3 linked regions of the Homo sapiens genome follow. The protein of the gene in region 1 purifies or fractionates together with the protein of each later gene. This does not show direct contact. Each region holds a gene or a part of one and is shown in the gene's direction. Other genes may lie near its edges.

Evidence for each region.
Region 2: the proteins of MINK1 (region 1) and HADHA purify together in Homo sapiens (affinity purification with mass spectrometry; 2 studies listed by BioGRID and IntAct, with this or other methods). This does not show direct contact.
Region 3: the proteins of MINK1 (region 1) and GPC4 purify together in Homo sapiens (affinity purification with mass spectrometry; 2 studies listed by BioGRID and IntAct, with this or other methods). This does not show direct contact.

What each region holds. Positions count from the first base shown.
Region 1 is NC_000017.11:4,836,214-4,839,966, forward strand, and holds part of MINK1 (misshapen-like kinase 1), read left to right. Parts: intron 1-3,753. UniProt on the Homo sapiens protein: Serine/threonine kinase which acts as a negative regulator of Ras-related Rap2-mediated signal transduction to control neuronal structure and AMPA receptor trafficking.
Region 2 is NC_000002.12:26,196,000-26,199,752, reverse strand, and holds part of HADHA (trifunctional enzyme subunit alpha, mitochondrial precursor), read left to right. Parts: intron 1-1,975; coding exon 1,976-2,062; intron 2,063-3,753. UniProt on the Homo sapiens protein: Mitochondrial trifunctional enzyme catalyzes the last three of the four reactions of the mitochondrial beta-oxidation pathway.
Region 3 is NC_000023.11:133,324,841-133,328,593, reverse strand, and holds part of GPC4 (glypican-4 precursor), read left to right. Parts: intron 1-3,753. UniProt on the Homo sapiens protein: Cell surface proteoglycan that bears heparan sulfate. May be involved in the development of kidney tubules and of the central nervous system.

The sequences.
Region 1 (3,753 bases):
ATATTCAGTATTTATTTGCTGGCCTTAAGGAGCCCAAGGTGTATTTCTCCTCTTGTTTCAAGATAAGGCTTGGTTTTCAGCTGGTGATGAGGGTAATCGTCTGATATTAGGGAAGATTGAATTGCGTTAATCTCTTAGCCATGTGTGGGGAGGCCAGATGGACCTGCTACTTTGTAGCCACAGCCACACTTGACCTCTTTGAGGTTCCTTTTCTCCACCAGCCTGGCTGCAGCGTGGTGAGGAAAAGCATGTGGTTTGAAGTTGCAGCCCTGAGTTCAAGTCCTAGTTTCTTCCCTTACAATGTAACCCTGGCCCTGCTCCCCTTACTGCAGATTCTGCCAAGAGCCTTACCCTCTCTAAGCTTCATTCAGTCCTGTATCGTGGGCATGGTAATAGTACTGAATGCAGAGTTGCTGAGGATTAAATGCACGTTAAGTACATAGTACAGTTCCCAGCACACAGTGATCATATATGTGATAGCCCTTTTTGCAGTTATTTTTATCAAATGGCAATCAGAGAAGCCTTCCAGGACAACTTTATCTAAAATAGCACTCCCTCCTCTGCTTTATTTTTATACAAAATTTTATATAGCATTCCCTTAGTCTGCTTTATCCTTCCTCATAGTATTTATCACCAGCTGACATATATATTCCTGTCAGCCCCACTAAAATGTCAGTTCAGTGGCCGGGTGTGGTAGCTCACGACCGTAATCCCAGCACTTTGGGAGGCCGAGGCAGATGGATCACCTGAGAGGTCAGAAGTTCGAGACCAGCCTGGCCAACATGGTAAAACCCCATCTCTACTAAAAAAAAAATACAAAAAAATTAGCCAGGCATGGTGGCGCACACCTGTAATCCCAGTTACTCGGGAGGCTGAGGCAGGAGAATCACTTGAACCTTGGAGGTGGAGGCTGCAGTGAGCCAAGATTGCACCACTGCACTCCAGCTTGGGCGACAAAGCCAGACTCTGTTTCAAACAACAACAACAACTACAACAAACAGTTCGGTGAAAGCTAAGATTTTGGCTGTTTTGTTCATTTTTGTATCCCCAGTGCCTGTAAGCATGTTTTGCACATAATGGGGGCTCAAACGTTTGTTGCAGAAGTGCCTCTTACAACACGTGCCACTTACAACACAGTGCAGTGCTTGCTTAGAGAAAGTATTCAATAAACCCCAGGCTTCTTAGGCTTCATTTTGCCCCTCTTTTATTTATGCACAATTAAGAATATATTTTTTCTGGGATGTTTTTAGAATCAGACCTTGTCTGGGGTAAACAGTTCTGGAAGCCTCCAGCTGAGCGATGCCCTTGAAGTAAAGTTAGGATCATCCAAGAGAAAATGTGGGCCTCTGTGTCTAAGCTTGGTTATATTCCAGGAGAACCTTCTGACTTGGAACTCTTGGCTTCTCACAAAGGATAAATATCAGTGGAAGTGGATGGGACAAGGAGGGGGCAGGCCCCGGCCTGACCTCTTTCCTTTTGCATTGCTCCTTTTGGTTGACCCACTTCGTAAATCAAACAGCTTCTTTTTACCATCCAGCTCGAAGTTTGACTGCAGTGTCCTTGAAACTGTGGAGCTATGCTTAGCGTCGCTGGATTGAAATCATAGCATGGAGCACATTCAAGGAGGACTTGTTGCTCGGTGGTAGCTGCTGACAGAGATGTTCTTTTTCAAATGATTTTGTGTTGTTGTGTCTGTTCTTTGGATAAGTGTCTTCGCCTTCCTCCTCTCTTCATGCGGCTGTGGAGCCAGCACCACTCGGAAAGCTGGCAGTTCTGGGCATGTATTTCTAGGCTGCTGAGCAACGTGGGACTGCCTCTGTGTTCTGATGTGCTAGCTGTCCAAATGTTGATGACAGATGCCTTAGGCAGGAGAATGGGAAGAGTGACCTCCTGCTGCAGAAGTAAGGACATTCAATAGTGACTTTTTTCCCCTGGAAAATTGCAAAAGGGGAATGGGGCTGTTTGGAGAGCTCGAGGCATTTAGATGAAGTGAAATGCTGCCTTGGCAAAATGACGGAAGGAAGATTACTGAGAACTTGGCTGAAACTAGGTGATCAGTCATTCCCCAAACAGAGGGAGAGACATCCCCACCCTTTATGCTATGGGATAGGACAGTTTGCCATAGTCCTTAGGGATATACACAGCAGGGAGGTTTTGACAGTTAAGATAACAGTAAGGTCAGCAAGAGAGCCAGCTGGCCCACCCCCTCACTCTTGCCCCAGGAGCTCAATTAAAACTCTGCTGGGTAGAATCCTGACTTCACATCTGGCCTCCATTCCTTTCCGCATTGAACTGTGTGCCTAAGACAGGGTAGCACACACAACTTGCACATGTAAACCATCTTTGTTTGTCATTTAGGGGACATGATGGCAGGAAGTGTGCAGCCGCTCTTGATAAGCTTGTATTCTGGTGTAGGTCTGTAGATAAGGCATGCAGTAACCTCTCAACCCAGAAACATAAAGCAATTCTGGACTGGAGAACATCTCCAGAAGCCGGTGAGAGTCTGCCTGTCTAATATTTCTGTCTCCAGACAAAGTTGAATCAGAGAAAGTTATCAATAATCCCCTGTCCTCCACCAGTCAGTCGCCAAGCATTGGCAGTCTATGTATTGAGAATCAGGTTCCAGATTCTATGGAAAGGATGTAATATAGTACTCAGTCCTCTACTAAGCTATTTAACCAGATCTCTGGGGACATCCACCCAAGCAAAGCAATGCCTTTCCAAGCCTAGACTCTTTTTTTTTTTTTTGAGACGCAGTCTCGCACTGTCGCCCAGGCTGGAGTGCAGTGGCGCGATCTTGGCTCACTGCAAGCTCCACCTCCCAGGTTCACGCCATTCTCCTGCTTCAGCCTCCCGAGTAGCTGGGACTATAGGCGCCCGCCACAATGCCTGGCTAATTTTTTGTATTTTTAGTAGAGACGGGGTTTCACCGTGTTAGCCAGGATGGTCTTGATCTCCTGACCTTGTAATCTGCCCGCCTCAGCCTCCCAAAGTGCTGGGATTACAGGCGCGAGCCACCGTGCCCGGCCTAGACTCTTTTTCTTAACTGTTACTGTTTTCCTCAATATCCTGCAACCTTCAAGGTTGGGACATTTTTGTTAAACCTGATTTCCATGAATTACACTCATTTTCTGTGGTCAGTGGGCAGTCATCTTGAAACCTGGTCTTCAGCCCCACTCCCTTCGACACCTACTTTTTACTACTATCTGTCTCAGTCTTCTCTTTCCTGGATTGAAGACAGAACAAAAGTGATCAGGTTAATAAGTCAACTCTCAAAGCATTTCTTGAATTCACACAGAGTATAGTAAGATACAAAAACGTGACTTGGTAGAAGACTTGGATCCTGTCCACAGCTCACGGCCATTTGCTCTCTCCAGTTCTTTTGCCATTCTCCTCCGAACCAACCAGTCCTTGACTTGAGACTGGGCTTCTCTTATCTATAGGAAGCTCTTCTAGGGGGTAATGGAAAAAGGGTTTTGAGGCTCTTTGTTCTTACTAAGGGCGGGAATAGTAAAGGGAGGAGAGAAAAGAGGGATGGAATTGTAGTGACCCAAGAGAGCCCCTGGAGATTTTGTCCAGTGGCTAGACAGCCTGAGGTTGTACGTGCTACGTGTGGGTAGGATTTTGTGTTCTGTTTGAGGAAAGATCTAGAACTAGGCACAGAGGACACAGTGGTGATACAGTCTAGTAGTAGGGAGAGACATTAATCAAGTAATTATTTATTAATGTGTGTGTGTGTGTGTGTGTGTGTGT
Region 2 (3,753 bases), on another chromosome or scaffold:
AGTTTATTGTCAGGAAGAAAAAAAGATAAATAATTTAAAAAATAAAAAAAGAGGCTACCGGGCCCCACAGGTCTAGGTAGGCCTGGAACTGGCAGGGTAACTTCTGCTGCATTGTGTTGATAAAAACAAGTCACAAGACCAGCCCAGATTCAAGGAGAAGGGAAACAGACTCTACTTCTAGCTGGGAGAAAAGACATACATGTCCAAGGAAGGGAAGAATGTTTGCCAGCCAGCTTTGGAGACATTAGTTTGCTCTTCAGAAAGGATTTCACCACCAGCATTAGACACTATATTACTAAGAAAGTAACCTGACACTACGTAAGCTTTCTGACAGTCATGCTGTACTGTCAATTCATTCCACTTTTGTTTTGTTTTTTTGTTGTTAGAGACAGGGTCTCACTCTGTCACCCAGGCTGGAGTGCAGTGGCATGATCACAGCTCACTGTAACCTTGAACTCCTGGGCTCAAGCGAGCCTCTCACTTCAGCCTCCTGAGTAACTAGGACTATGGGTATGTACCACCATGCCTGGCTAGTTTTTTAAAGTTATTTTTTGTAGGGCCGGGCACTGTGGCTCACACCTGTAATCCCAGCACTTTGGGATGCTGAGGCGGGTGGATCACGAGGTCAGGAGTTCAAGACCAGCCTGGCCAAGATGATGAAACCCTGTCTTTACTAAAAACTACAAAAAAATTAGCCAGGCATGGTGGCAGGTGCCTGTAATCCCAGCTACTCGGGAGGCTGAGGCAGGAGAATTGCTTGAACCCAGGCGGCAAAGCTTGCGGTGAGCTGAGATTGCACCACTGCACTCTAGCCTGGGCGAAAAAGCAAGACTTTGTCTCCAAAAAAAAAAAAAAAGTTATGTTTTGTAGATATAGGGTCTCACTATGATGCCGAGGTTGGTCTTGAACTCCTGGCCTCAAGTAATCCTCCATCCTTGGCCTCCTGAAGTGTTGGGATTATAGTTGTTTAGCCACCATGCCCACCCTCCACTCTTGATTAACTAAAATCATGGGATCTTTATCACAAATACTGCCAAGCCAGGTCTTGTCCTTCAAGTACCTATACAGTTCTTTTCTTTCCTTTTTTTTTTAAATCTTAAGGCAGTACTTTACTTTTATTGCATTATAATCTTATTTTGTACTCAGCTTTTCAGTGTGTTGAATGTGTCTTCCTCCTTGATTCTCATCTCTGTTAGGATTCTGCCTGTTCCAGATTTGCACACATTTGACAGGTGTCCCTTCCACGTTTCTCATCCAACCATCTGAATAAAAACATGAATAACTGGGAGGCGGAGGTTGCAGCGAGCCTAGATTGCACCACTACACTCCAGCCTGGGCAACAGAGCGAGACTCTGTCTTTAAAAAAAAAAAACAAAAAAAAAACATGAATAAGTTGGGATCGTGGCCAGAATGCGGAGACAATCTGCATTAGAGACTATTCTCCAGGTGGATAAAGCTAATAGTTAATAGTATTTGTGTACTGTAGCTGCAACTATAGTGGTATGCCGTTTTTTAGTAACACACTGTATAAAATGAGACAAGCATGCACATTTTGGCTTGTTCTTATAAAGGTGAAGCGGGGAGTGATTCAGGGCAGATCCAAACAAAAGAGGAGGTGACACCCATGCTGGGTGTTGAAATCAATGAATTGCAATTCAAGGCCGTCTTTTCAGTGTTGTTCTAAGCTGTTTTATTGACCCAACTGCTGAGATGTAGTCTCCAGGTCAGGATAAGGTGACCTTATGATGGGCCATAACTAGAGGAAGGCAGAATGGGAAAAGGAACAAGGTCAACATATTCCCCGACACAAAACCCCCTAGGTGATCCGTCAATGTCTGGGTGAGTGACATCTACTGTCTGAGCAGTTGTGGGGGACAGAGTGGGCTGGGCCCAGGTGTCACTCATTAGCTTTGATGTGGCCTCTAATCATCTCCCAGGCCTACCTGACACATTGTTAAATGCTTTTCCCCTGCAGGTGATTCCAGATCACTGTATCTTTGCCAGTAACACATCTGCTCTCCCAATCAGTGAAATCGCTGCTGTCAGCAAAAGACCTGAGAAGGTAAACTCGGAACAGAGAAAAACCCTGAGATGTTTTATTGCTTCAGATTCACTGATAAAGGCTTACAGCTTGAGTACAGAAGAGACAGTGGATTACGGAGTGGATGCGGGTGGTTCCTAAACACTGGACACAATAAATGCTAATACCATGACTAGTGTGAGATGCAGGAGTAAGTTAAGTACAACAAAAAATATCCTTTTCAAGGATCCCAAATGGGCATTATTTTTCAGGTTCAGGATATAAAGCCCACCTGTATCCTAGAATTAGGCATTGAAGGATAGGCCTTAAGAAAGGATGCTCCAAAATACCAGTTTGGCTACAGAGCAGAGTCAGTGACTGTTTAGAACAGGTTTGGTTCCACCTCCAGATCAGGGAATGGCAGGAATGGTGGGATGTGTCTGCCCGTGGGTTTGCTTACACCTTCTACCCCGGGACATGAAAGGGCTGGGTATAGAAGCACTTTCTGTGAGTATTTGGAATGATGCCCAGAAATTTATTTTTGCTCTCAACCAGAGTAATTAAGGGGAAGTGAAATCATTCAAAGAGAAGTAAAACAACTCACTTCTCTGGAGGATACCAGTTAGCCTCTGCTAACCAGAACCAGCCGAAGGTAGGCAGGAATTATAAAAGAACTTTAAGCAGCTGAAAGTGTTAATACAAATTCTATGTACTGAAAACACAAAAGCCTATTTATTCCTACTCTTCTAGCTTGCTAATGCAAGGTAATCTAGTTTCCTAGCACACAGCAGATTAGAAGTGATGCGGGGACCTGACAGAGGCAGGCTCAATGATGGCAGGCTAAAGGTCATAGGGAGAAGTTGCAGCCGATAGTCTACAGATGGACAGTCTGGCCATGTCATATCACTCAAGACATCTGTGTGGCATCTAAAATCAGTACAGGCGATGCCGTTGCTGTTCATTTGATGGTAACCTCTCCCCGCCATCGGAGCAGAGCAAGCATCACACTTTGCAGTTCTGCCCTCCAAGTATCTAGGACAGCTTTTCTCACCTGCTTGCCTTTTGTCATTCATTTAAAAGTAAGGCCAAAAAGACAAAATAGGGTGACCAACCATCTTGGTTTGCCCGGGAGCAAGGGATACAGGACCCTCAGTGCCACAAATTGGGAAATCCCCAGCCATCCAGGATGAGTTGGTCATCTTTGGCACAACTTTCTGAGTGATGTAAATATATTTTGCTTGGGTTAGTGATTATATGGATGTATATACAGTTGTCAAAACTCATTGATGTGAACACTTCAAGATCTGTGCATTTTATTATATAGAAATTCTACATCAATAAAGGCTAATTCCTTTTGCTCAGGAGTACTGAGTCTGAATCAGGTCCTAAGTATTTCAGATGTAAGTAAAAGAACACTTTAGGGGTTAGAAACAACTTTTGGATTGATAAGTTTACATAACATTTACTTGATCTGTGTATTACATAATGGCATTGGAGATAGACAGACCTGTGATGGAATCCCACCCCGTCATATGCTGACTGACTCTGTACTACTAACCTCTTGATACCTTTTTTCCTCATCTAGATAATTAGGCTGACCAGTTCATAGGGTTGTAATGGATTAAATGTAAGGAATAAGTGGTAAATGTATTGAAGAGCAGGTAGATAATGAGCAGCCAAAAATTACAGATATCACTTGTTGTACCTTATAGCTAAAGTGAGAGGGAGAAAGC
Region 3 (3,753 bases), on another chromosome or scaffold:
CTGAAGTTGCTATTGATGGCTGTGGACCAGGATCTGAATGGCTAATTTATGCTTCATTCCTCATTGTAGAAGTAAATGTCATGGGAATAGAAAGGAGGATTGGGGATGTGAAAGAATTATGCAAGAACATGCGAGCTGCTAGTTTAATAGGAGGAACAGATGCAAAAGGATTTTTTCTCCTTCTTTCTAATAGCAAATTATTATGCTTTGGTTGATATTGTACCCAATTGCTATGGATTTTAGAATTTAAATGATGTCTGCCATCCTTATGAGGTCCCTTTGAGGCAAAAGGCATAGGTAGAATAGTCCCAAGCAACAGGGCTAGTAAGAATCCATCTAAAAAGAAATGAGTCTGGGTCTTCTGGATCCCCTGATTTTTGTCTGGTTGACTCTCATAGATTAAATATATGAATATTTAGGAACTTTTTGTATGTAGTGAGGGATTAACAATTTTATAGATGTTTAAAAAAATCTCTGGTATTCTCATAAAACCGTATGTGGAGAGTGGCAGTGTATGGTAAAGGTGAATTGGATGGGGGAAATTTGTCTTACCAGAAATTTTCATTATGGTCTGATTGTGCAAGAAGAAGGTTAAGATGCATGGCAAAACACCATGTGCTTTGATTTGAGCCCATAAGAGCCACTCAGTACATACTTGTCAAATTGCATACCCATTTGGAGAAATTATGACGTTTTAACTCATTATTATCAGTTTTATAGAATTTCTCAAGCATTTATTAACCATATGCTCACCCAAATGGTCTTCATATTTGCAACTTATATAGCCACATTAAAGAGTCTTTTAAAATGTGAAGGAAAGAAAATAAATTTTCTGAATGATGAAATGAATTAGGATTTAGTATGTATATAGCACCAACCTAGGCTCTTAAAGTACACGCTAGCATAAACACACACACACACACACACACACACACACACACACACACACACACACACTTTCCTGGACAGAATGTGAGTCATGGAAACCAAAGTATGGTCCATGGTGGGTGTCGGACAGGGGCATGTCAGTTTCAAATCATTCTCCTCTTCATTAGGCCATTTCTCTTGTACTCCAAAGTAGCTATGTTATATATGGCTGCATCCACCCATAAGCTCTTGACCTGAATGAGGAACTCCAAGATTGATAATATTTTACTTTTTCTGTAAAGTGTTCAGTGATTTAGTGTTTGTTTGACTTGCAGCACTTTGTCAAAAGGCTAAACTTTGACATTTATTAGAAGTTTTAAATTAAAACTAAGCTTGAAATGTCACACCGCACCTCGCCCCACCCCTAAAAACCAACATGACTCTAGGTGACGTTCCTTAAAAATGCAAGTGAGTTTTGAGAATTACTTACTAAATGAGTCTGAAAGCACAACTCAAATAATTCTGAATGTCCAATTTCTGCTGATATGTGCCAATTTTATGAGCAATATAATAAAAATTCAATATAAGGAAGGACATGTGGTAGCTGTTGGAATCCACTCTTTTTGGTCATGAAATATTAATAGCACTGGATTGACACACAAGGCTTGCATATTGTTCTCAATGATGGCAAAGCTTTGTTTTTCCAATATGTGATAGCTATGTGTGCAACACACTGGTCATATAATAACGCAATCCACGTGTGCCTTTTATGCCCTCCATGAGCAATCACCACTTGGCAAGGATGCTAGCAAAATTCAAGCATGGTGTGGGACATGGACCAGATGACATTTAAGGTCCCTTCTCAACTTTGAACTCTAGAAAAGTACTGCATACATTTAATCATCTATGTTAACACTTAGTTGAGAGAGTTCCACACAAGAAAATTTGTCCCCAAGACAATAAAAAAGTCATTCCTAGGAATGCAATAAATTTATTTAAAAACACAATTCATTGGAAAGACATTTTCTCTTAATTAAAACATTAATGCTTGTCCTGACTGCTTCATACTCAACACAGCCCCTGAGTTGTTGGTGATTGCAACTGATAGGTGAAATGGGAGAAGTTTCAGCAGCTAGAGCAGTTGTTTTCCAACTTTAGGGTATATCAGAATCACAGATAGCTGAAAATTTTGGCCTGTCCACCAAGCCATTTGGCCTGTGGACAAGTCAGTTGGCTAGCTGGTGCTGAGAGTGCCCATAGTAAAAATGGAATGATGCCCAGCAAAAGGGACCCTCCAGGGTTTCTGATTCAGTAACTCTGGGGTGGGGCCAAGAATTTGCATTTATAGCAAGTGTCCAAGTGATGCTGATCCTGCTGGTCCCAGGCCCACACTTTGAGAACCACTCAGGGGATTTTGGAGAAAATAAAAGGCCATCCCAGGTAGCTGATTGGTATGCTTCTTATATTGTTCACCTAACTCTTTGTGCAGTTTCTGCCCTCTCACTTTCAGGGAGAGAGCTTTGGTAAAAATGTCAGGCTGCACACTTGTAATGGGGATGAGTTGACCTGCCTATTTGTTTACTATGCAGAGGAAGTCCATTTCCCTTTCTTTCTCTGAAGAAAGCCCAGTAAATAAAAGGCAAGCAATAGAAGGGAAAAGAACTAGATAAAAGGAAAAGGAGAGAAGCAAAGAAAAAAAAAAAACACAAGCCATACCTACAATGTTTGAAAAGCTGGAACCAGGGAGGACTGTGGACTTCATCCTCAGGCCTCAAGGAATAACTAAGTGATGAGTTAGGGGCTGAGAGACATAGGTATAGAATCTCTTGGCATGTCAGGAGAGTCACACACATACATCTCCCTGCAAAAGTATTCAGTTTCCTCAGTCCAGGTTTTGAAAAGCTATTTGGTATTAGTGGCCAGTCTCTGAGTTGCCCACCCAATGTGAGAAGAGAATGGTTTTGTAGAACTATTGCATTTTGATAAGCTCACCAATGTTCTGGCTTTGAAGTAGGTGTCATATTTTCTTTTCTGTTCCATATTTACTCAGAGGCAGTTTCTTATTTGATGTGGTCCTTATATTTTGCTTTGGTATTTGTTATATTTCCTGCTTATAAACTTGATATCATGAGGTGTTTATTTTTATACCAGGCAAGAGATTCTTTAAGAATGATTAATGTTACAAATACACTTTTGGCTTGTTTTTTCATTGAAGTTCCTGAGGAAAGCTTCAGAAGAAAACTAGTTTGCCATTTGTAGTTAAGAGATTAAAATCTCTAACCTTAGGCTGTGGCTGTATGGTGGCCAAAAAGTAAATCTGAAATAACCAGGTATTCTCATTTACATTTTTCAGTTTTTTTCATGTTGTCTCATAAATATGCTATATTTATTATTAAGTCCATTATGCATGTGCTCTCTCTCTCTCTGTCTCTCTCTCTCACACACACACACTCACACACACACTATCAGAAGGAACATTGAAAAGAGTCTCATGATGTTATTGTATAAATCCTTTAGAAACCCAGGATCAAGCTGGATACTCCCAATTTGTACTACTGTCACAGAGAAACACCCAGGAACTTATTTTCAGAAAACTTATGTGCTTGCTTGTAGGGGTGTTTGATTATGTTTTTTGGCCTCAACCATTTTCCAGGCAGCTATAGTGCATGATCATATAGATAAGTGAAAAGGAGAAATGAAAAAAAAATTCAGGCCCAAGTAAAATAACGACTTTTGAAAACACCTGTCCTGCTCTTAGGTTACAATTAGAAGGCATGGTTAACTTTGGCTTAGATTCTTAAGTAAAAAGTTGAGGGAAATCTCATGTTTTAGACTTCATGTGCACATTTTTTCCAGTTTTTCTTTATTCACCTATGACAGAGAGAA